Linked DNA regions of Homo sapiens. The protein of the gene in region 3 interacts with the protein of the main gene of each other region in a pairwise test. Each region holds a gene or a part of one and is shown on either strand. Other genes may lie near its edges.

The links.
Region 1: the proteins of PRPF18 (region 3) and DRC4 interact in binary tests that used the Homo sapiens proteins (3 or more experiments, as listed by UniProt).
Region 2: the proteins of PRPF18 (region 3) and CCDC150 interact in binary tests that used the Homo sapiens proteins (3 or more experiments, as listed by UniProt).
Region 4: the proteins of PRPF18 (region 3) and GMCL1 interact in binary tests that used the Homo sapiens proteins (3 or more experiments, as listed by UniProt).
Region 5: the proteins of PRPF18 (region 3) and TTC23 interact in binary tests that used the Homo sapiens proteins (3 or more experiments, as listed by UniProt).
Region 6: the proteins of PRPF18 (region 3) and CCDC102B interact in binary tests that used the Homo sapiens proteins (3 or more experiments, as listed by UniProt).
Region 7: the proteins of PRPF18 (region 3) and ZNF639 interact in binary tests that used the Homo sapiens proteins (3 or more experiments, as listed by UniProt).

The regions. Positions count from the first base shown.
Region 1 is NC_000016.10:90,036,180-90,039,679, forward strand, and holds part of DRC4 (dynein regulatory complex subunit 4), read left to right. Parts: intron 1-201; coding exon 202-407; intron 408-1,052; coding exon 1,053-1,220; intron 1,221-1,582; coding exon 1,583-1,669; intron 1,670-3,500. UniProt on the Homo sapiens protein: Component of the nexin-dynein regulatory complex (N-DRC), a key regulator of ciliary/flagellar motility which maintains the alignment and integrity of the distal axoneme and regulates microtubule sliding in motile axonemes.
Region 2 is NC_000002.12:196,723,215-196,726,714, reverse strand, and holds part of CCDC150 (coiled-coil domain-containing protein 150), read right to left. Parts: intron 3,107-3,500; coding exon of another isoform or gene 3,103-3,106; exon of another isoform or gene 2,344-3,102; intron 743-2,343; coding exon 616-742; intron 1-615.
Region 3 is NC_000010.11:13,624,965-13,628,161, reverse strand, and holds part of PRPF18 (pre-mRNA-splicing factor 18), read right to left. Parts: intron 1-3,197.
Region 4 is NC_000002.12:69,843,160-69,846,659, reverse strand, and holds part of GMCL1 (germ cell-less protein-like 1), read right to left. Parts: coding exon 3,399-3,500; intron 2,530-3,398; coding exon 2,464-2,529; intron 2,076-2,463; exon of another isoform or gene 1,793-2,075; intron 1-1,792. UniProt on the Homo sapiens protein: Possible function in spermatogenesis. Enhances the degradation of MDM2 and increases the amount of p53 probably by modulating the nucleocytoplasmic transport.
Region 5 is NC_000015.10:99,218,582-99,222,081, forward strand, and holds part of TTC23 (tetratricopeptide repeat protein 23), read right to left. Parts: intron 3,284-3,500; coding exon 3,160-3,283; intron 468-3,159; coding exon 317-467; intron 133-316; coding exon 7-132; intron 1-6. UniProt on the Homo sapiens protein: Participates positively in the ciliary Hedgehog (Hh) signaling.
Region 6 is NC_000018.10:68,895,580-68,899,079, forward strand, and holds part of CCDC102B (coiled-coil domain-containing protein 102B), read left to right. Parts: intron 1-1,639; coding exon 1,640-1,849; intron 1,850-3,500. UniProt on the Homo sapiens protein: During interphase, forms fibers at the proximal ends of centrioles to maintain centrosome cohesion. During mitosis, dissociates from the centrosome following phosphorylation to allow centrosome separation. Contributes to CROCC/rootletin filament formation.
Region 7 is NC_000003.12:179,326,031-179,329,530, reverse strand, and holds part of ZNF639 (zinc finger protein 639), read right to left. Parts: intron 2,567-3,500; exon of another isoform or gene 2,187-2,566; intron 1,971-2,186; 5' UTR 1,900-1,970; intron 1,249-1,899; 5' UTR 1,238-1,248; coding exon 1,180-1,237; intron 1-1,179. UniProt on the Homo sapiens protein: Binds DNA and may function as a transcriptional repressor.

The DNA.
Region 1 (3,500 bases), on a different chromosome or scaffold from region 3:
GACAGTGGTGTGTGTGCTGAGTGTGAGCATCAGCAGAAAAACTCAGTCTAAACCCCTTTGTTCTTCTCTTGCAGAGCTTTTGCCTGCAAGGCTGTTCTGACCACAGTGGGCGTTTTGGGCCCGTTTACAGGCTCCATGTTCTGTAGCCGTAGGGGCACCACGTCTTCCTCTGCTAAGCTGCTGTTTGCTGCTGCCTTTCAGAAATTGAGGCCAAGTATGATAAGAAGATGAAGATGCTGAGGGACGAACTCGACTTGCGGAGAAAGACTGAGCTCCACGAAGTGGAGGAGAGGAAGAATGGCCAGATCCACACGCTGATGCAGCGCCACGAGGAGGCCTTCACCGACATTAAGAACTACTACAACGACATCACCCTCAACAACCTGGCCCTCATCAACTCCCTCAAGGTGCTGTGCGTGGGCTGGGCTGGGGAGGCACACTCTGCCTGTCCTAGAATGTGGGCTGCAGAGTCCTGGGGATCCAGACCCCAGCTCTCCACCCCAACACACCCAGTACTTTTTATAAGATTGTTTGACAATGCCCCTCTCATATCCTTAACTGAAATTCCTAAATAACGTAACCTATCTCTACCTATTGTTAAAAGCAGTCAGGATATTGCCCTCACCGTAGTGCAGAGGGGGAAGTAATGAAGTGTGTTCTGGTTTGTAAAAGCTCAGATGGAACCGCAGTGAGGGCCGTGATGTGGCTGGAGTGGATAGGTGTCATAGTCACTGCCTGCGACAGGTGGATAGGTGTCATCGTCACTGCATGCTGGCAGTGACAGGATTTTCTACAGTAGACAACGGCCCTTGGTGGAATCTTGAACAAAGTATAGTCCTTCAGTCTGCATGGAAGCTGCATTCCCAGAAAACTCAGAATAAGTTGAAGCTGCAGAAATACTGTTTATACATAGAAGACGTCTAGGTGCCAGCATGCCTGAGGCTGGCAGCAGCTGGTGATGGGCAGGAGAGCACCCAGCTCTCACCATGCAGGCCACAGCCCCTTTGGTTCTGCCTGCTGAGCCCCTGCCGGGCCTGTGCTTGTGCCTGCAGGAGCAGATGGAGGACATGCGGAAGAAGGAGGACCACCTGGAGAGGGAGATGGCAGAGGTGTCTGGGCAGAACAAGCGCCTGGCAGACCCTCTCCAGAAGGCTCGGGAGGAGATGAGCGAGATGCAGAAACAGCTCGCAAACTACGAGAGGGACAAGCAGATCCTGCTTGTGAGTTTCCCGCTGGATTCCTCTCCCTCCTTGGCATGAGCTTGCCTAGGCTCAGGAGGGAGGAGCATCACAGGGAGGGGCTTGGCCCTTAGGGCAGGAAGGGAGACGGGGAGGCCTGCATTTCTCCTTTCTCTGCCTCGTGTTCTCCTGGGGAAAGTAAAGTCTGGGGGTGTTTTGGAGACAAGGCCCTCATCTTCACCACGTGCTACCGGCCGGCCTTGGTGAGACTCAGCTGCTTGTGTCCTGGAACCAGGTCTTTCTGGCGATTATTTTTGGCCTTGCCATCTCCCAGGAGCCCGTGTTACTTGGATGACTGTGAATCTTGAATACTTTCTGTCCCCTACTCCCTGTTTTTCCTCCAGTGCACAAAAGCCCGTTTGAAAGTCAGGGAGAAAGAGCTGAAAGACCTGCAGTGGGAGCATGAAGTGTTAGAGCAGCGATTCACCAAGGTGAGTGGCACCACGCTGGCCCTGCAGTTGGCGGTGGGTGTTAGAGCAACGGTTCACCAAGTTCACCAAGGTGAGCGGGCACTAGGCTGGCCCTGCAGTGGGGATGGCACCCCTGCTAGCCAGGGACGGGGCTCTCCTTGTGGCCCCTGGACCAGCTTCAGATGCCTTGGCCAGGTTTCTGGGTTCTGAAGCTGGAGGCCCTGTTCCCTGTAACTCATTCCGCAGCTTCTAAGAGGCAAAAACCTGTGGCCTGTTCTGCATGCATATTCTGCAGAAGGCCTGGGGTCTTGATGGGGAACGGATCACACATGACTTTCGTCCCCTCGAGAGCTCACCTCTGAAAGCACATGAGGGAGGCTCTTAAGTGTAAGTGAAGATGAGTCTCCGGCTGCTCAGTGCTGGTCCTCACACTGGCGAGTTTTATGGGCTCCCTTCCAGGTTTCCTGCATGCTCTCGTGTGGATGTGACTTTGTATGTTACGAACACGGGATCAGGCCATAAGCACAATTTGCTTTTTAATCTCACAGTGTATCAGGCTGCACATAGGAAGCGGTCTCATCCTTTTCACAGCTGCTTGGTGCTGCGTTTTGTGAACGTTTGATCATTTAGCCGACTCCCGTCTGTTTCTAATGCTCTGCTGCTATAAGCATTGCTGCCTCAATCCTTTTAAATTTGTCTTTGTGCACTTGTGTGAGATTGCTTCTTAGGAAAGCCAGTTCCTAGCAGTGGGATTGTTGAGTCTGAGGGTTCTGTTCTGAGGACCCTGATCATCTGTCCAGAGGGCTGCTCTGAGTCACACACCTGCCAGGGTGCGGAGGGGCCGTTTCCATCCTCACCTGCACCAGATCTGACAGGTTTAAACCTTTGCAGAAGTGACTGGGTGGAAAACATCTCATTTCGTGGGCACTTCCAAGATTCGCAGTGAGTGGTAGGGGTGCTCGGTCCTGTCTCTGTCCCTTAAAGACGCTCCTTGCCTCTGTTCAGTTTCAAAGTTCTGGCCAAGGACCAATCCCTGCAGCATGGGCCCCTCAAGGCTTTGTCTGTGGTGTGCGGGGCCAGGGCATCTTATCTTGAGCCGCAGTTATATGTGCTGTTTTGTTCTCTAACCTAATTGAAATTTTTGAACACAAACCGTTGTAGTGGGATTCGCTTCTCAGAAATATCCCATCTGTCTGTCAGATCTAGCCCCACCTTCAGAGACACCTCAGGTCCTGCACGACGTGCATTGCTAGGCTGTGCCAACTCTTGGCACCTAAGGGAAGGGCACCTGCAAGGTAGTCAGTGAGATCCTGAGGACTGCTGTGTTAGACAAGGGGCCCTTCCTTCTCCCTGTGGGTTTTGAGGTGGACATTATTGGGAAGAGGACAGCAGAGACGTGCCTGGGTTGGAGCCTTGTTTTCTGTCACATTTTCTTCCATTTGAATGTGGTTCCTGACAGTGTCCAAGCTGGTGTCTCTTCCTAGAGAACCGAGAGCTCAAATTTATCAGCAAAATTTAGAGACCAAGGCAGTTATTTATTTATTTATTTATTTATTTATTTATTTATTTATTTTTGAGATGGAGTTTCGCTCTTGTTGCCCAGGCTGGAGTACAATGGCACGATCTCGGCTCACTGCAACCTCCACCTCCTGGGTTCAAGTGATACTCCTGCCTCGGCCTCCCGAGTAGCTGGGATTACAGGCGCCTGCCACCACGCCCGGCTAATGTTTGGTATTTCTGATAGAGACAGGGTTTCACTCTGTTGGCCAGGCTGGTCTCGAACTCCTGACCTCAGGCGATCCACCCACCTCACCCTCCCAAAGTGCTGGGATTACAGGCGTGAGCCACCACA
Region 2 (3,500 bases), on a different chromosome or scaffold from region 3:
TGTGCTGTTTCATAAGGTGTCCAGCCCTGCCATTTCTGCTAGTCTCAATCCTGTACTCTCATTAAGCCTCTCTTCTTCTATCAACCAAATGGCCTAAAATAAACTTTCTCTTACTTTGAATTCCTTCAAAGTTGTACACAGCCTCTGCTACCCAAGAAAGTTCTCTGATGTTTTCCCTATATATCTCATTTCCGGAGTGGAGATCCCAAACAAGGGTCATTTGGCACACACTGGGGCATGGACCATATCTTCTACTGTTTTCTCTGTGCCTCTCAGGAAATGGTAGATGCAGAATAGATGCCAGTTAAATGAACTGAGAAGACAGATGATTTCTCTTCTGTCTATCAAATGGCAGTCTCCTTATTCCTCTATCCCTCTTGCTTATCACTCTCTGATGGAAAATCTCCCATCAAGGCACACCTTTGTCGGGCAGAGAATTATGTCAGAAACTTTTTTCTTGTGTGTTGCTTTACAGAGAGGTCTTAATTACATCTGGCCTGCTGATCAAAGGGGGATGAGAGGAGTCAAAGAACAACTGTAGCCATTCTCTGAAATCCTTGAGCTGCTTATCCTAAGAGGCATTCACCAAAAGAGAAACTTTTCTCATGACTATACCTCAGCCACTTCCCGTTGTGCCACTTTCTTTGTAGTTTCTCTCTCGGTTTGAAACTGCTTTCTTAGAGCTTCTATGCGTTCAGCATGCAATTCTGCTTCCACTTTGGACTCTTCAGTCATCCGGTCTCTGTTTTGAAGAAGAGAGGTGATAAGTCACCTTTAGAAATCATTTTAGGAGGTAAGAAAGTTTTGGAGGGGAGTGTGCAACTCTCCAAAAGGTGTGTGATTTATAAACAAGCAGCCTATCAGTAGCCTGGTGAACCTCACTAATTTGGAGCTCATTAACAGAAGAAAAAAGAAGTGAATTTACCTGTAGCATTAAAAAACATTAATTCTACATAAAGAGATCCAACCAAACGAGTAAAAAACTCACATCGAAGAAAAATACTGGAGGAAGAAGAAACACTTTAAGAGATACTTGCTTTTGTCTTTTCTTTTGCCTTTGTCTTTTCAAACAAAACATTATAGCAAAGTGATTAAGACTATGGGTTTTGGAGTCAGCCTGCTGCTGCCTGGATTGTAATCTCCGCTCTAGTAAGATGATGTCTTTTTGCTAGCAGCTATTTACTACTTAAGTTTTAACTTGTAATAATATTGTTTCCTTATCTTTAAACTGAGAGCCTTAAATTAGATCAGCATTCCTAACTTGAACTCCTTGTTCAAGACCCATGATTAATCTTCTGAGGATGCTGGAATTGCCTGAAATAATATGCAAAATGTGTGTGTGTGAGGGAGTGTAGCTGAGTCCGTAGCTTCTGACTTTTAAAAGGATAAGTGACTCCAAAAAGGACTAAACGGATTTAAACAATTACTAGGCTTATTCCAGCTTTAACATTCTCTGATCTAGCTGATAATGACTTACTGTATGATTACTCTTGAGTTATTGGTTCTTTCTCAAAGGATAGGAGAAGCCTGCCCTGCCATGAAATCACCTTCATTTTCCCTCTCTCTCCTCCTGACCATCTCTTGCTCTTATTTGTATAATATATCCATGTTCTCCACGTGTCTCTAAAAGCACATCTACTAATGGATTCAGTTTCTCCACTTGGCAGCATTCAGTGGCTTGGTCTATACATGAGACTTGCAGGTGGTAACTGCAACTGTCCCTCCAGTACCCCAGGCAGGAATGTATCAATATACTTTGGTACATCACATCTAAAAAGTTGCTGACACCTGTCCTCAAGGCACAGCATAAAGGGATGGAGATCCTGAAGTCATTGGATATAATTATGGTTATTTCTTATATTCCCACACTCCTCCCCATGCCCACACCTCAATCTGAAAAATGAGCAAAAAATTCATGGAGATATAGAAAGAGAAAACCATCATTTTTACAGTGCTGTATTTTGAAAATTATAAGAAACTTTCTAAATTGCCTTTAAATTTATTGTGATTATATCAAAATGATTAAGACTATAAGTTTTGGAGTCAGCCTGCTGCTGCCTGGATCTAATCCCAGCTCTAGTAAGATGATGTCTGACCTTGAGTATGGTACACCACCTTCCCCTGCTTGTTTCCTTATCTTCAAAATGGGAATAACAACAGTAACCACCATCATAGGGTAATAGTTTGTACTAAAGGAAATAATGCATGTGAAGTCCTTAGCATATTACCCAACATATCATGAGCATGTAACAAATGTTAGCTACTGTCATCATCATCATCTAGCTCTAAAAATTTAAATTCTAAATTTTAGATTTTTAAATTAAATTTTGTATTAACTTTAATTTTTAATTTTAAAATTTCTCTCAAGTCTCTACCTCTGCCCTGAGCCCCTACATAGCACTTCAACTTCAACTCTTACTTTCTTCTTCTTTTTACTGAGGTAAGAACATTTAACATGAGATCTACCCTCTTAACAAATTTTAAGCATACAATATACTGTTGTTCATTATAGCCCTATGTTATATAGCAGATCTCTAGAATGTATTCATCTTGCTCTTTTTTCTTCTAAGGAAAATCGCAGACCATCTACCAATCAGCCTCCTTAACAGTCTTCTGAAGACTCACTCAGCTTCTGCTTCCCGCTAGTCCCAAAGGAAGAAATGTCCAACCTCATCTTTAAAGATAACCCTTCCTCTTATACTCTCTCTTTTCTCCAGTTCGATTGAGTTCTTTTCCATAATCTTTAATCATGGTCCAGTTCCTCCCATTCTAAAAACAGGGCAGCAGCAGAATAACTTTTCTTCATGTTATGCTCTTGAGCTGCTATCTGATCTTCTTTATCTTCACCATTGTCCTCTTTGCCTGCCTTTCCTCATCAATCACTTACTCTTTGTGATCTTCTATATCTACAGAAACTGGCCATCTGGAGGATGATTGGTAGATACCTGTTGCAAAACCCAGTGGCTTCCTCTCTGGTCTCTTTGACTCTGCAGCATCTGACTCACTTGTGTTTGACTCTGGTGATACTACATTCTACCAACTCTTTCCTTACCTCCACTAAATGCTCCTTCTCTGGATCCTTCTGTGGCCTCTGTTCAACTTCTACCTGAAATGCAACACATCTCCAAGTTCTGACCTTGGTTCTCTCTCTATACTTTTCCCATGGCAGTCTAACCCACACCAAAGCTTTAGCGTTTATCTTTTTATTTTTTTGAGATGGAGTCTTGCTCTGTCACCCAGGCTGGAGTGCAGTGGCCTGATCTCACTGCAACCTCACTGCAACCTCTGCCTCCCAGGTTCAAGCGATTCTCCTGCCTTAGCCTCCCGAGTAGCTGGGACTACAGGCATACACCACCACACCCAGGTATGTATTTTTAGTAGAGATGGGGTTTCACCATGTTGGCCAGGATGGTCTCGATCTCCTGACCTCGTGATCCGCCCACCTTGGCCTCCCAAAGTACTGGGATTACAGGTGTGAGCCACCGCACCCGGCGTTTAGC
Region 3 (3,197 bases):
CACGTCATTCACTTGGCTCCTTTTTGTTGTTGTTGTTCCCTGTGTAATCAGGTATTTGCTTTGGGATAAAGACCATTCCATCACATAGTCCAGCTTATCCTGCTGTGAATTCTAATCATGTGTATGCAGAACTTTGATCGGTAGCCATGGAAATATAGATGATAGCACTAATTTGGCATCTTAAGGTTCCTGAAGGAATAGGTGAGAAGAGGGGCAAAGTCAGGCAAGAGAACACCCTGATGAAATACAAATAGCTTCACTCAGCAGCAGAGCATGGCAAGAATTGTTATGCGCAAGCGGAAGGCAAACTGATGGTTTGCCTTGGAGGTGGTTTTCCCCATGTCAGAAGAATTGGAATCTTAGGTGTGTGCTCCTTACAGAAGACGTGTGTGATGCCTATTTATACTCACTAAGCAGATTCTATGATTTAAAAACATATACTAGTGTTCTCCCTGAAATCTTAGCTGCCAAGGGTTGTGAAACTCAATTGTTTTAGTCATAAGTAGTTACCACAGAGCGGTATGATACATTTTTGTAAAAAAGATTTGAGAGTGCATGGCAGAGATAGGTGTGTAATCTCAGGACAGAATATCGTTATTTTCCAGATGGAAACAAATCTTTTCAATTAGACCCCTCAGGATTTCAGTTTCAAACTGCTTATGGATGCTTAAGCCAGTAAAACAATGAGCTGCTTAGCTTAGCTTATGGCAAATGGCTTAAAAACTTGTGGTATTTTTAATTGGCTTTTTATTTATATAAAGGCAATACCCTTATCTAACAAATGTTTATTCAGTGCCTACTATACATACTGTTCTAGGCTCTGGAAATACAGTAGCGAAGAAGCCAGAAAAAATCCCACCCTCCTGAGATCGAATTGTGGTAAGGGAAGACAGGCAAGAAACAAAATAAATTCATAAAAAAAAATTTTCAACGATGCTAAGTGCTTTGGAGAAAATAAAGCAGGCAAGTGGGGTAAGTGGACGTGTGGGGCAACCTGAAGGACTTTGGCTTGGACTCTGTGAACTAGGAAGCCCCTGCAGGGTTCTGAACAACAGAGCAACACGATCTGACTGTATGTGAACTGGATCAGTCTGGGGAATGCTGCTAAGAAACTGGAGAGGAGCAATAAGAGAAACTCAGGGACCAGAGAGAAGACACTGGAATAATTCAGATGAGAGGTGGTGGCTGGACCCAGTGGCAGCAAGGAAGGTGGTGAGAAGGGATCGGGCTCCAGACATACTTTGAATATAGAACCATCAAGCTTTGACATGGATAGGATATGGGTTGTGACAGGAAGAAAAAAGCCAAGGATAATTCCGGGTTTTCTGTGTACACTGTTTGAGGGGAAAAAAAAAAAATCACACGATTCTTGTATCAAATAATAGCAGTCCTCTACCTCACTCTTTCCAAATCCTAATTCCAGCTCTCCACAGGCAACCCTTTTCAAACGTTTTAAGTGTTTCCTCTGGCATTTATTGCCACATTTCTAAATACTATACTGACAGTGCTTGGTTTTTCCACCAGATATTAGTGATATCTCCTGACTTCCTACTATGAAGCAGAGGATATCTCACTCTTACACCACTGTCCACTGGCCCCACATATGCACGCACACGCCTCAAAAGCACTTTCTCCCACATCCTCCCCAAACCACATTTTTAGTGAAATCAATATTCAGGGTTTTCCTTATAAAGGCTACACAAATATCGTTCAAAGCAAACCCACATAACATATTATGATGATGACCTCTCATAAGTTTTTTTCCCCTTTTTGTTTTGTTTTTCTAATCCATTCTCCAACATGAGACTACCCTCACATGCCCAAACATCACTCAGGATCTGATCAGACATGCCAGGGAATATAAGCTCTTCCATTTCTTCCTGGAGTCCTTCAACCATCTACTCTAACCTGGACCCACTTGTACTGCTACCATCCTGGAGCATGACATCCCTGCAGCTCCAGCCTGGGGATTCCTCTCGCCTTGCTCTGTGGTGGATCTCAGCTCTTGGATCTTTTTCTTTGGATGGAGGACATCCTCAGGTAGAGTCAAGACTGCCCACATTCCAATCCCAATTCTACCACTGACTAGCCATGTGACCTTGAGAACTCACTTCTCTACGCCTCTTCCCCACTTACAAAACAGGGAAATGTGAGTGTCCATCTCATATTGTGGCTGTAAAGTACTGAAGGGAAGCACAGTAAGCACTACTTAAGTGTCAGCTATGACGATAATGACTACAGAGAATGTGTGCATGGGAGATGTCATTAGCCTATATTTACCCTTCACTTGATGGTTCAGAAAGGAAGAGAATTCTGAGTTGGACAATATTTCCCTAGCTATTGCAAAGGTACTGCTCTACTGTCTTCTACCTTCTAGTGCTATCAGTGAGAAGTATGACAGTATTTTAATTCCTGCACCTTTGTAAGCGACCTTTTCTCTGAAGTCTTTGAAATCTTCTCTTTAGCTTTGGCCTTCCAACATGCATTCTTTTGTGCCTTGATGTGAACTCTTCCTATTCATTTGCGCTGTATTAAGTGAATTCTTTTCATTCTACAAACTCACGTCCTTCAGGTCTGGGACGTTTTCTTACATTAATTCTTTATTTCCTATCTTCCCTTTTCTGTTGTAATGGCTATAAACGTTATAGATTGACTCTTATTTTCTTACCTTTCCTGCTTTTCATATTTCAACTTTATCTTCTAACCCACTAATGTAATTACTAAATTTTTGCTGATTTAAATTTTTGCTAATTTTTAAGAGTTCATTTTGATTCTCAAACTTTTTTATAGCCTAATGTTCTTATTTCATGGCTACAACGTTACCTAAGAATTTTTTTGTTTGTTTTGTTTTCAGACCCGTCTGTCACCCAGGCTGGAGTGCAGTGGCACGATCCTAGCTCACTGCAGCCTCAAACTCCTGGGCTCAAGCAATCCTCCTACCTCAGCCTCCTGAATAGGCATGCACCACCACGTCCAGCTAAATTTTTTATTTTTTGTAGAGAAGGGATCTATTTTGCCCAGGCTGGTCTAGAACTCCCGGTCTCAAGCACCCCTCCCACCTCAGCCTCCTAAAGTGGTGGGATTACAGGCATGAGCCACCACGCTTGGCCTCTAAGGATATTAATTATCATTCTCAATGAAATTTTTTTCTGTTCTCTATAATTCTGTTTCTATGAAGGTCTTTTTTTCTGTGTGTT
Region 4 (3,500 bases), on a different chromosome or scaffold from region 3:
CCTTTGTTCTTTCTTTCCTTTGAGCCATAAAAAGCCAAGAGAGCACGTGGGTTTTTAAGAGGATCCTGCTCCTTTTTCAAAAAGTTCAGTGAGAAATTAGAGTCATCCCCCTGTATCTGTGGGGGATTGGTTTCAGAACCTCCTACAAATACCAAAATCCTCTATGCTCAAGTCCCTTATATAAAATGGCATAGTATTTGCATGTAACCTATGCACATCCTCTCATATACTTTAAATCATCTCTAGGTGTTCTTACAGTACCTAATACAATGTAAATGTTATGCAATAGTTGTCATACTACATTGGGTTTTTTTGTTATTATTTTTTATAGTTTTTCCCCCAAATCTTTTCAATCGGCAGTTGGTAGAATCCACAAATGGAGAACCCATGGATAAGCAGGGTTGACTGTATTAAAGTGTTTCTAACGATTTTCAAATCAAACATTCTACGGTGATTTATTTATGCCTTGACATCACCAGGTGATGAAAGTCTCTCACACTTCTCTACCAAATTATCTCGTAAAGGCAAAAGAAAGGAAAAAAACCCCATAATCTAGGAGGTGGTCTAACCATAAAAAGTAACATTTCTATAAATTGTATCTTGAGAGTTCAAGGAAATTTGAATTCCCTCTATTCCATAATGTATTTAAACATAAAAATATTTACCTCTTCCCCACCTCCTCCCCACCAAAAAAAAAAAAAAAATCAGTAAAATTCACATTCTGGGAAGCTATGTAATGTTTGACTTTGGTTTTGTACATTTCCATCAGAATGTCACATACTCTCGGACACATTTGTATCCTTGTCTCAGAAGCACTGCTGTCAGGGAAATGCAAGCCAGAAAATGACTGTAATGCCAACCAGCCTTCAAAAGTTAACTGCTAGCCAGATTTTCTCAGACCCATCACAAATATCTTAGTCCCATTACTACAAATAAGCTCTTTGACAGCAAGAGACCATGACAAAATCATCTCTGCATTCTTCACAGCCCCTAATAGAGTATCTTTACATATAAAGGACAGTCAGGAAGTACTTGCTGCAGGAATAAATGGATAATATGCGTACTTAATCCAAAAAGCCAAACTAAGCTGGGTGCAGTGGTATGTGCCTATAATCCCTGCTACTTGGAGGCTGAGGCAGGAGGACTGCTTGAGCTCAGGAGTTTGAGTCTAGCCTGGGCAACATACCAAGGCCCCCATCTCTTTAAAAAAGAAAGGCTGCTCTGCAGCTTGGGTGGTGGGCAGGGTGGGCAGTCCTCATTGTCACCGCCATATTTCTTGTAGGTTTTTAGAACCCTGGAATCCATTTCTCACGGGTGACTGCGGTCCTATTATTCCAGCTTGGACTACATAGTCCACAGGTGATGGAGAAATCTTGGACCTCTGGCTCCATCTCCAGGACCTCTGGCTCTGCGCTGTGCTGCGTCTGACCAGGTCCCGCTTGAGGACGAAGGCGGCGCAGTTGACTGCAGGAGCCTCTGCAGCCCCAGCCTGAAGCCTGCATGGGACCCTGTGTGGCGCTAACAGGTTTTTTTTAAAGGAAGATTGATATTTTCTCAAAGAGAGGGGATGTCACTATGTTGCCCAGGATGATCTCGAACTCCTAGATTCAAGCAATCCTCCCACCTTGGCCTCCCAAAGTGCTGGGATTATAGGTCTAGGTTTTCCCAAATCGCTTTTCTGGTAGAGAAACCCTGAGGACTGATTGGCTTTTGCTTGTCTAAAACCATGGCCTGTGAATTTGTAACATTCAGGGACATGGCCACAGACTTCTCTCATCAGGAGTGGGAATACCTTGACCTGGTTCAGAAGACCTTGTACCAGGAGGTGACGGTGAAGAACCATGGTAACTTGTCTCACTCTCACTGAGGCTGGAGAGCAGTGTCGCAATCACAGCTCACTGCAACCTTGACCTCTATGGCTTAAGCAATCCTCCTGCCTCAGCCTCCAGAGTAGCTGGGACTACAGATTTGGATTCAAGGTGTGAAATAATCAGAGATGGAAAAATATACATTTATAGGAGACACACATTTGTTACTCCACATCAGAGAATTCATCCTAGTGAGAAAACGGATCAACATGAAAAGTTTTTGAAGGTAAAAAAAAAAAAAAAAAAAGGCCAAAACAGTTTCTTCAAACTTATTTCTCAATAAAAAAGATGATTTTTAAAATATAACTTTTAAATTCTCTAACAGCCTGGCAAAACCTGAAACTTTTCTATAGTCTTATAACAGTAATGCATTTTTCGGTTAAAACAGTAGACATAATATCCATTATATTATTCACAACAAAGAAATAAGTTTGCACAGCATTTCTTCAGTTTATGGATGTAGTCAAGCCCTTTCATTAAATTGTTTGCTTTTTCATAATATATTTTTGTGTTCTACAAAAATGTTATGTACTTTAACAAATGATAAACAATATTTTAGGATGACTAATTATGAAGTTACTTGAAATTCAAATACCTGAGTTCTTTAAAAAGTTCAACATTCTGGTGAGTCATCAAATTGTTTAGAAGCCATTCAAGGCACCTGAAATTAAAATATATAATTATTACATTATATGCCATGTATTTACAATTTATTAAGTAGGACTTATAGTTAAAATAAAATCAGATTAATCTTGCCAGAACATGCTCAAAACTTTTAGCTTAACAATAGGAAATTTAGTATTATTTTTGTCAGTGGATATTATTAAGAGAATATTTCCTTTATATTAACGAGAGCATTTCCAGTTTTAAAACTTCATTTTGAGTTTGTGTTAAATAGTTTATTAAGGGGTCTGCATACTAGTATAACCTTCTTTAAAATCTCAAAACAGGTACTGCAACTCTCAAGAGTTAGAAGGACTGTCAGTCTATCAGGCCTACTTCTTAAACAATTTTAATAGAAAATATACTATAAAGTGCAGTGGCATGATCACGGCTCATTGCAGTCTTGAACCTCCTGGGCTCAAAGAATCCTCTGACCTCAGCCTCCAGAATAGTGGGGACCACAGGTGCATGCCACCATGCCTGGCTAATTTTTAAAATTTTTTGTAGAGATGGGGTCTCCCTACATTGCTCAGGCTGGTCTTAATCTCCTGGGCCCAAGTGATCTTTCTGCCTTGGCCTCCCAAACCACTGGGATTACAGGTGTTAGCCACCACACCCGACCAAGGTGACCATGGTTTTTATAAGCATGTATATAACCCACCTATGGTCACTTACAAAGACGACACTTTTGAGGAATTTACTAATTAGTCCAAAAGTTAAAAGGGGCTTTTTATTTAATAAAATTCCATCCCCCTATCCTATTTTTCCTTAATTCTTTCTTTCTTATAGCTATACATTCTCTTAAGAAACTAAAGCAACCAAATTCCTAAAAGTGGGATAGGAAGAAAAACAAGAAAGGCAACTCACTTTTTCTTTACAGAATCTAATCCATAGGTCCCTGCTGATGTGTAATAGCCACATACAGTTTTCACATTAACTGTTTCCTTCATTGTCTCACCACACTGCTGT
Region 5 (3,500 bases), on a different chromosome or scaffold from region 3:
ACTTACTGTGCAAATGATAATCTGATCCGTGCTTCAATTTCTATCCATTCTTCCTTTATAATTCTTCCACATTGTAGCAGCTCCTTTGAAAGTCTCTCTGCTTTTGTCAAATTCTCTGCAGCTTCCTTAAATCTGAATTGTGTTCAGGAAATTTTCCACTTGGTTCTAGATTCTACACCCCATGTCCTGAACTTCCTTGGCTCCCATACTTCCAATCACACTTCCTAAGTCATCCATCAGCATCAGCTTTTTACTTGGCGTGTAAGTGTTACGTGAATAGTATTTCTATTTGTAAAAGTTAGAGGCAAAAGGATACTTTTGAAGGGAGAGTAAAGCTCTGCCCATGGTATGGAAAAGCTCAATGGAAAACTTGAAAACATCTGTATTCTCACTATAGGGAGGCACAATGGAGTTGGCGAGGATTTGTCTGGCTTTTTCTGCATGTTGTTTTGCTTGCAGTGACAGTCCTGTGGACAAAGAAAAAGAGGTCTCAGTTTCTCTATCATCTCAACTGGACAGGAATACAGTTCCTTATGGTCTGGGAATCTAACAAGGTCTCCTTCACATATTGTCAAATGACACATGGAGACGTATCTGGGCAGCATGAAACACTGCCATGACTGTAACAACCAAAGAAGTGTTTTATACCAAGTACCCAAGATAAATTTTCCCCCAAATGGCCTTTTTAGAAATAAACAAAATGAGCTGGAATTGAACAGCTTTGAAACCTCACCAATAGCAGAAGCAAAATATGTTACATATAATTATAAGAAACAAACTGAATACAAGAACTATAGCATTCTGAGCAGGAAATAAAATATTCATGAATTTTAATCCTGGCTGTGTAACTGCAATCTTAATGAAATACTAAAAATTCTGAATCTTCAGCTCACCCACCTATAATCATAATGTCAGAGAGTTATTTTTTTAACATAATACATATCTGATATCTACAAAAACTTACAAACACAATTCCAGTGAGGTAACAGATTAATGTGTGACAATTTCATCTTCCTATGTGGTAAGAGACTAATATGAAACAAAGTGGAGCAAAAAAAAATCACTACTAAGAAAGAATTCCCCAGTGTGTTCCAGTGTTCCTCCACGGGCTTGTTAATCTGTGGGAAGGGAGGACTGAGATCGCTAGCACGGCTTCAGGGCTTTGCACGTCCCTGTATTCCCATCCTCCTCCCCTACACCGACAACCACTTCCACTCACATACACACAGCCCCCATCTTATGTTCTTAGTTACACAAAATTGTATCTTAGATCTCTAAAAAAATCTGTCAAAATATGAAGTTAATTCTGTTCCTATGTCTATAAAACAGGAAGAATATATTTTCTAATGGAGAAAATCAAGGGTATGTGTTTCATGTGGGAATTCTTACACAAGATTGTCTTATTACATATTTTTAAAAAGCACAGACATGTATTAGTGCCACCTGTGCTTGTGATGTTACACAAAGCATGTTGGACTGTATTTTCAACTGTGTCGAGTCCCTGAAGGAACCTGAACTCAATTTACTGGAGGCAGCATAGGGTGAAGTTCAAGAACATTGGCTCTGAAGTCAGACTGCCCAGGATGGATCCCCTGCTCCACCACTTATTATAAAACGTTGGCCTCAGCTTTCTCAGCTGTAAACAGGGATATTAAAAATACCCACCTTTGAGGACTGTGGTGAGGACTGAATAAGGTTATGCATGGAAAACAACATGCCTGGCACCAAATGAGACTTTAATAAATGGTAGATACTACTTTTACTTTAAATTGAGAAAGAAGGACTGTCACGCAGAGAGGCAGCAGGCTGTATAAGAAAAGCATCGTCTGAAACCCCAGATGGCAGGACAAACTGGCATTGAAAACCTAGGTCTGAGTCTCAGATCAGCTACTTATTAACAGTGTGGTATGGGGAAAGCTGTTCTAACTCAGACTCATTGTTTTCCCTGAATCTACAAAATGGGGTGGGAGGGCAGAGTTTAAATTAGATAATCTCCAAGGTCCCTAAGAGCCTTTGATCTAATAGGTAGGACCAGTCTATAATCAGATTTGGCCAAATTTATTGGGTGGCAATAATGAATACGCTTGGTATAGAATATGCTTGGCATTTGGTGTTTTCCACTTCTATTATTTTCTTTATTCACTGGGCCAACCCTGGAAAGTTAGCATCACCATTACCATCATCATCACTTTTCAGCTGAAGAAGCTGAGCACAGAGATGCTCTTGTCCATCTTGTCTTAGGCTGCACAGTCAGTAAGTAGAAGCCATCATCATATCCTGGGTGTCTATTGTTTTTGCCTCCCCTGCACGCATTCTCCCCTCTGTTTCCCTTTTGGGATGCCTGGCTCCTGCACATCCAATCCATGAGATGTGGCGAAGGCCTGCTTCTCCTTCAGGATCCAATGAAGCCAAAAGAAAGGTTTAGCCAATCAGACTATTCCTTGCCTTTGGTATACAACCCAAGTTGTTCCAATTAGAACCCTTCCCAAATCCCGGGATTTTGGTGGAGGGACATTCTTTTCCTCCTGGGAATGCTTATAAGGGAAGTCTAAAGTTGCAGGCAGTCTTGTTGCCACCATGTGGGCAAAACCTGGCAAAGAATGGAGCAAATACCAAGAAAAACAGAGCCAAGCAGTGGGAGAGAGAAAAATTGAATCCTGGTCACATTGTTTGAACACTGGATATGGCTAAGTCTAAAAATTTTTTCCCTTGAATTTTTAAGTTGTATGAGCCAAAAACTTTTGTTTATGCCAATTTGGGTTAGTCTTTTTAAATTTTTTGGTTATTTACAGTCAAGAGATTCTCCAATAAAAGTGTGAATGGATCCCATTCTGGGCCCCTATTCCATACCTTGGGTTTTTTCCTACAAAGTCTTCTGGCCCAACAGATTAATTTTCTCCTAAGAACCTTACTTTTGAAATCATAAAAACAAAAACAAAAACAAAAAAACCAGAAAAGTTAAAATATTTTTTCCATTTTTCCCCTTTGAATGTTTACAGGTTATATACCTTATCAACTCTTTCTAAAAAGAAATGGCTTCTTGGTATTTAGAAAGGAGAATATTAAAAAACCTGATCCTTCTAATTAAGTGTGAATCAAATTTTGGGGAGAACAGCAGAAATCGACCAACTGATCCCCCTCAGTCTAAGGCGAGCTTACCTTTCAGCTGGAGGTAGCCTTGAGCCAGATTAACATGTGCCTCTGCTAGTTTCCAATGTGAGTCTCCATAGCAAATTCTTGTCAGTGCTACGCAACGCACAAGCTCATGGACGGCCTGTTTGTACTGTTAGGAAGAGAAAACAGGCTTACCAGTTATACAACTTAAGAGTCACAAAACACAAAATCAATGCGCTTTTATATCCCTTTGATAAATACTGAGTGACTACTATGTGCAAAACATTGTTCTAAGCACTTGAGATGTATCAGAGAACAAAACAGACAAAGATCTATTTGGGGTGGTAGCATGTACATCTGGTAAGATGAAACAGACAATAAACATA
Region 6 (3,500 bases), on a different chromosome or scaffold from region 3:
AATTTTTATCCTTTTGAGATATTTTTAAAATGCCTCATACTCTAATCATCCTAAATAGTTTGCAAGGAATTTTGAGTAGTTGACCCTCTTCTGTCCCTACAATACCACAAATATGGTATTTGTGCTATTGTATTTATGGTATTATATGTATGGTATCATACTAATTTTACTAGTAAGAAAACTTAATAAGATAATAAATTTCTTGTCCAGAATTAGACAATGAGTAAATGGTGGGACCAGGATGAGATTCTAATAGATTTTCTACTGTAAAGAGTTACTCTGCTGTATAGATTTATGCAATAAATTACATTGATGTCTCGATATCCATATGCCTAAATATATGAGAGAAACATACATTTAAAAAATTTATATTACCACAGTGTTTCTCCTTTAAGTGTTACATTGCTAGACAAAGTGCTTTCTAATTACTTTGATTAATTTCACTTCTCACAAACCTTGTCAGATTAAATAAGTTGTCTACATTGGGGTAGATGAAGTTACCTGACTAAGCTTATCCAGAGAATAAATGGTGAAGTCACATTAGAATGCATAGCTCAGGACTATAATTTAGAGACAAAAAAGCTACTATTCACTTCTACTTACAATGTCCACAGAAAAATTATAGCAGACGAATATAATTTCATCTCATAATAATAAGCACTTAGATGTAATAAAACTGCAGAAAATAAATACATTTGATATTGCCTCTTTAAAACTTAAAGACATTAAAATAACAAAAACCAAAGGAGATATTAAAATTATCTTAAATCAGAATTTCTAGAGTAGGCTTCTGGTCATTGATAGTAATAAAAATCTCCTCATGTTGATATACCATGCAGCCTTGGTTGAGAACCATGGGAAGAGGGCAGAGGTTGACAAAACTTTAGTGTAAAGGACCACAAAGTAACTATTTTGGGCTTTACTACCTATATGGTCTCTCTCTCAACAGCTTAACTTACCCATTGTGTGTGAAGGCAGTTATAGGCAAAGTGTGAAGAAATGAGCGTGGCCATGTCCCAATACGATTTTATTTGTGGTATAGTTTGAATTTTATATAATTTAATGTTGAAAATGTTTTAATGTAAAATTTTAAAATATAAAATGATAAATTATATATATTTTTTCAATATAAAATTAAATTACTTTTTGCATTACTTTTTGGCAACTGCAAATGTTGCATAGATAGAGAGATAGAGAGATAGAGATAGAGAGATCCATATAGCATCTGTCTATTCCCTAGATAATTGAGTGAATGAATAAATGAAATATATCCAATCAAAATTGCCCATGAAATGATATTGTGTCTTCTCCACTGAGAATGTTTATCAGTTGAGAGTGGAGATTAATGTTCCCAAGAGCAGCAGTTCTTCACTTGACACATATATTTGAAAAATATGGTACATATGGCTGTAGAGATAGTTACATGAACCAAGAGGAAAAGTATATTTATCTACGGTTTGGCCTGATCTTAGGATTTTTGTATTTTTCTCATGTTTTCAAACAAATAGAATTTTCTTTTTAAAATTGTATCAGTGGACATATCCATGAACTTTTCTTAATGGGAGTCTGGTTGTGGGTGGCATTATCTTTTGGCAATTGCAAATGCTGCATGCTGCTTCTTTGTGTTTTCTGTGTGTAGCTAGAGAGATTGCAAGCTGAAAATACCTCGGAGTGGGACAAGAGGGAAATACTTGAAAGAGAAAAGCAGGGACTGGAGAGAGAAAATAGAAGGCTGAAGATCCAGGTGAAAGAAATGGAAGAGCTTTTGGATAAGAAAAATAGATTAAGTGCAAACTCTCAAAGTCCTGATTTCAAGATGTCACAAATTGATCTGCAAGAAAAAAACCAGGTATGGGTGCTCCTTGGAGCAAATTCTCACTGTCTAATCTCACTCTGATGCCTACGCAGAGTCTGTCTTCACTCGTACACGCCTCCACATTTGGATATTTCCTTTTGTGCCAGCTAATACCTGATACTCCTTGCTCTTTTGCCCACTAGGATGTAAAATAACGTTCATGCATCTGAAACAAAGTGTGTCAAATGTTAAAATATGACAAATCTTCAGACAGTTTCAAGATTTCCAAAAGGAAGAAGAAAAATGAAGTAAGAAATAGAACTTTCTGGTTTTTTGTTTCTTATTAAAGCTTTGTCTCAGTATTTTCTAAGCTAATGATCTTATTTCCAATAAAGATTTTTTCATTAATTCAAGCGACTATACAATAAGCATTTGCTGGTAGCTATGGTAAGTATCTGCATAAACATTTAAATTTAGCTGAAACTCACTGCTTTCTGGTTCTTTTTTGTCAGTTTCAGAACGATTATTTTTGAGCTAATGAAATGCATAATTTTTCAAATAATTTTTCCAGCCTGTGGTATAAATCTTAAAACCAGGATAACATTCAGAATTTAAATTTGGGAAATTTAATTTTGGATGTGTTTTATCCCCAAGCCAGTAGATATAGTTTATGCTATAGACGGACATTTTTTTGATAGTTTACAGATTTTTAAATGTGCTTTTAATGGCAGTCTTATAGTTTTAATGTGGGTTCGTGTCAATGTGCTGTAAATTATATTTACCTTGTTTCTATTTTTCAATTATATATAGCATCTTAATGCACAATTCTATTTCTCACTCAGTTTCTTTAACAGTTTTAAAAGGTGAATTTGATAAGTTCATAGTTTTGAGATATTTAAGTCATTCATACTCACATAAGCTCTAAAACCTAAATGGCCAGAAAAATTGAATTCCATATTATTTCATCATTCTTTCATGAATCTAGGGATTTATTGCAAATGCAAGATTAAATTGTATTAGTGTTTCATGACCTAGCAATGCAAATATCTAAAGTTAAATGTTATAGTCCGTGACCATAATTTTCTATTATATTGATTCATAAACTATCCATAATAATGTATTTGATTCTGACATATGTACACTGATAAATCTGTAGACATCTTATTTTGGAGATCTCTACTCTAAAAAGTGCAGAATTATCTCAATTATGGACTGTGGTTTGATTATAGAAATACTTTTTATTTGATTTATTCAAACAAGACAAACATTTATTCGTATTATTCTCTGTGTCAGTCACTGTTCTATATGCAGGTAATGAGAATATTAATCAATGAATCATTATCCCCACCCAGCATGGGCTTAGAGTCTATATAGGGAGTCAAACACACAAATTTTTATAAATAAAACATTATAGTGATTGCTAAGAATAAAGTGGAAGGGGACACAGATTAAGAAGCAATTGATTATATTTGATTTTGGCACCTTTCTAGTTGTATCAAAATGTATTAATATAAAGTATATCTTTCGGGAAAAATTGAGACCTGTTTGGAGCTGGCATTGGCGTAACCTGTCATCAGGGCACACCGAGTCCAGACCTGGTCTCTTTGACAATGTAGTTATTTGGGCTGGGACTAAGCAGAACTTGGAAACTGAGAGGATCCTCAAAGGTCTAAGTCAGTGGGTATGCTGATCACTTAGAAGACTG
Region 7 (3,500 bases), on a different chromosome or scaffold from region 3:
TTAATGTTAATTATAGTATCTGTAATGAAAATATTATACATTTTCAACTTTTAAAGCTTTTATATTTCAGATCCAATATTGACATAGGACTTTGAAAGAACCACAAATTACATACTCTAAAACATAACAACTTTGAAATATACAAGGATACATTTGTTTTATACTCAGAATCACACAAAATAAAAATATATGATAAACACTGTATTAACTGCACAAAACAGTGAAATAAACACCAGGAAGGTGTGCCATGTCATGCAGAGAAAGGTTGTTACATAGGGGAAATGGTAAGGACCACTTAGGGCTTCTGAATATAGTCATTTCAAGTGTTGTCTAGGAAGGGCCAGTAAGCAGTATACTAGGGTTAATTTCTTCAGATATGAAGAATGTGTAGGCTGGGTAGACTAATAGGTAAGACTGAGATGGTCCCAAGTAAATGTATGCGAGGTGTATTAGAGATGGCCACAAAGACCCCTTTTCTTATACTGCCAACACAGCAGAGCCAACCTCAATGAAAGGATCTAAAATTACACAGTCATCCAGCCTGGGCAGCATGGTGAAACCCCATCTCTACTTTAACACTACAAAAAATTAGCCAGGTGTGGCGGTACACGCCTGTAATCCCAGCTACTTGGGAGGCTGAGGCAGGAGAATCACTTGAACCCAGAAAGCAGAGGTTGCAGTGAGCTGACATCACACCATGGCACTCCAGCCTGGGCTAGAGAGTGAGACTCTGTCTCAAAAAAAAAAAAAAAAAAATTACACATTCAGCATGAAAGTTTACATTTCCTAAAGTAATAAAGAGGATAAAGTCTTTTTTCCCCAATAATGTAAAATATTTTCTACCAAGGTTGTCATTATTGGGTCTTAAGCACAGCTTAGGTATCAGACATGCAAATCCCAATTATGTTATATAAGTAAATAACCTTGGCTATCTAATTTTAAATATTTATAACCCATAGAGCTGTGAGGAATAATATAATGTCTGTAAAGTTCTTATGTGTGCCTAGCACATGGTAGACAATAAGGAATATATATTCAGATAATGTATTTAAACCGTTGTTTTACCTAAATATTGACCCAGATATTTAAGTCTTATCTGATCACTTAGGAGAAAATGGATGAGAATATAATTTTGTGGGAATTAATCCATACCCAACTTTAAAATAATTATACACTGACCTGAATAACGAGAAGGGTGTAGAGTCTTCCTTTTTCTTTTTTTAGGATACTCATTCATATCTTTTCAATCTAAAAAACGAGAAAAAATTAACAAATATGTCACAAATAACAACTGTTAATGACGTTATAAAAATTCTAACTGAAGAATTTATTGGCAATATGAAATATGTGAGCCACCTGAAAATCTATGGTATAAGAAAAGTGTTAAATGATGCCTCTGTTTGTATTTCAGATTGTTTTCCAGTCAGGTTTCAAGGCAGAAACTGATTTCTGTTTTCTTTCTTACGGAGGTTAAAAAATTCTTTTTCAAATGTTGATATAAATTGTGAGAACTGGATAATTACAATAAACCACATGTTTAAGTCATTTTATTTTGTGTATATATAAAAAAAGAAACACTGTGCCTATGGCACCATACTAGGAGTTTTATAGGCACATTTCCTACCATTGGAAGTATTTTTAGGTAGTTTTCAAGCTAAAGGCGGAGACATTTCCTTTAAAAAAATATTGTCACAAATATGTATCGGCCTCCTGGCTTCCAGAAAAAAGTACTCATCACACAGATCAGAATATAAATAATTTTCAAGAAAAAAATCATTTTCCTATTTATGAGGTCACATTCAACGTTCCACTGAGAACACAACACATGCAGCAACCACTATCCAATTAAATTCTCATTAACTGTTACAAAATTAATTAGTTTCAATACAGTCCACTTACTTGGTATAATTCTTACTACTGGAGTGAGGAAAAATGAATTACAATAAGTTTCTGTAGACAGTAAAAAATGCCTGTAAGTAAAACATGAAAGAAGTTATTAAGCAAAAATACAGCTCATTTCTGGTACTGAATAATACAATGGCACCAGATCTTTAATCAATTGGAAAGTTATACAGAACTAATTAAGATATATTATTTTGAAAACAATGTACTACATACTAAAAACTGTATATCTTGATAAATATGTGATTATATGCAAATTTCCACATTTCTTTGAAATGATTTACCTTCTATAGTTCTTTTTTTTTGAGACAGTCTCATGCCTGACCTATAGTTAAATCTTTTGACACCAAAATAGGACTATGAATCTGAATTAATTTATTCATCCATAAGGAAAGCAAGCATAATGAAAGCAAACCAAATTATAAACTTTTTGTTTTTGAGACCGAGTTTTGCTCTTGTTACCCAGGCTGGAGTGCAATGGCGCGATCTCAGCTCACTGCAACCTCTGCCTCCTGGGTTAAAGCGATTCTCCTGCCTCAGCCTCCCAAGTAGCTGGGATTACAGGCATGTGGCACCACACCGGGCTAATTTTTCTATTTTTAGCAGAGACGGGGTTTCACCATGTTGGCCAGGCTGGTCTCAAACTCCTGACCTCAGGTGATCCACCCACCTGGGCCTCCCAAAGTGCTGGGATTACAGGCGTGAGTCACCTTGCCTGGCCCAAATTATAAACTTTAAACTGTTACAGCCCTTATAGATTATTTATTTAAGAAATAAAAGATCGAGACCAGCCTGGCCAATATGGTGAAATCCCGTCTCTGCTAAAAATACAAAAATCAGCCGGGTGTGATGGTGCGCACCTGCAATCCCAGTTACTCAAGAGGCTGAGGCAGGAGAATGGCTTGAACCTGGGAGGCGGAGGGCTACAGTGAGCTGACATCGTGCCACTGCACTCCAGCCTGGGCAACAGAGCAAGACTCTCTCTCAAAAACAAAAAATCAAAACAAAACAAAAAAAGAAAAAAGTAAAAGTGATAATAATAATTTACTGACCACCAATTATGTACCAGGCTGTGAACATACTTTATCTCATTTAATCCTATGTAATCGTATGAGATGCAAAATTCACATCACCCTCTCAAAATTATAGTTCCTGTTATTGAGGAAACTGAGGCACAGTAAAGTCAAAGCTAGATACTCAGTAAATGCTGGGGTTGGGATTTGAATAAAGGTTTACCCAACTTTATTTATTAATCTATTTATTTATTTGAAACGGAGTCTTGCTCTGTCACCCAGGCTGGAGTGCAGTGGCACGATCTTGGCTCATTGCAACCTCTGCCTCCCCAGCTCAAGCGATTCTCCTGCTTCAGCCTCCTGAGTGGCCGGGATTACGGGCGCCCGCCAGCAGGAGGCTGGGATTACAGGTACCCGCCAGCACACCCAGCTAATTTTTGTATTTTTAGTAGAGACGGGGGTTTACTATGTTAGCCAGGCTGGTCTTGAACTCCTGACCTCAAGTGATCCGCCCACCTCAGCCTCCCAAAGTGCTGGGATTACAGGCACGAGGCACCGCGCCCGGCCTATAATGCTCTTAACACC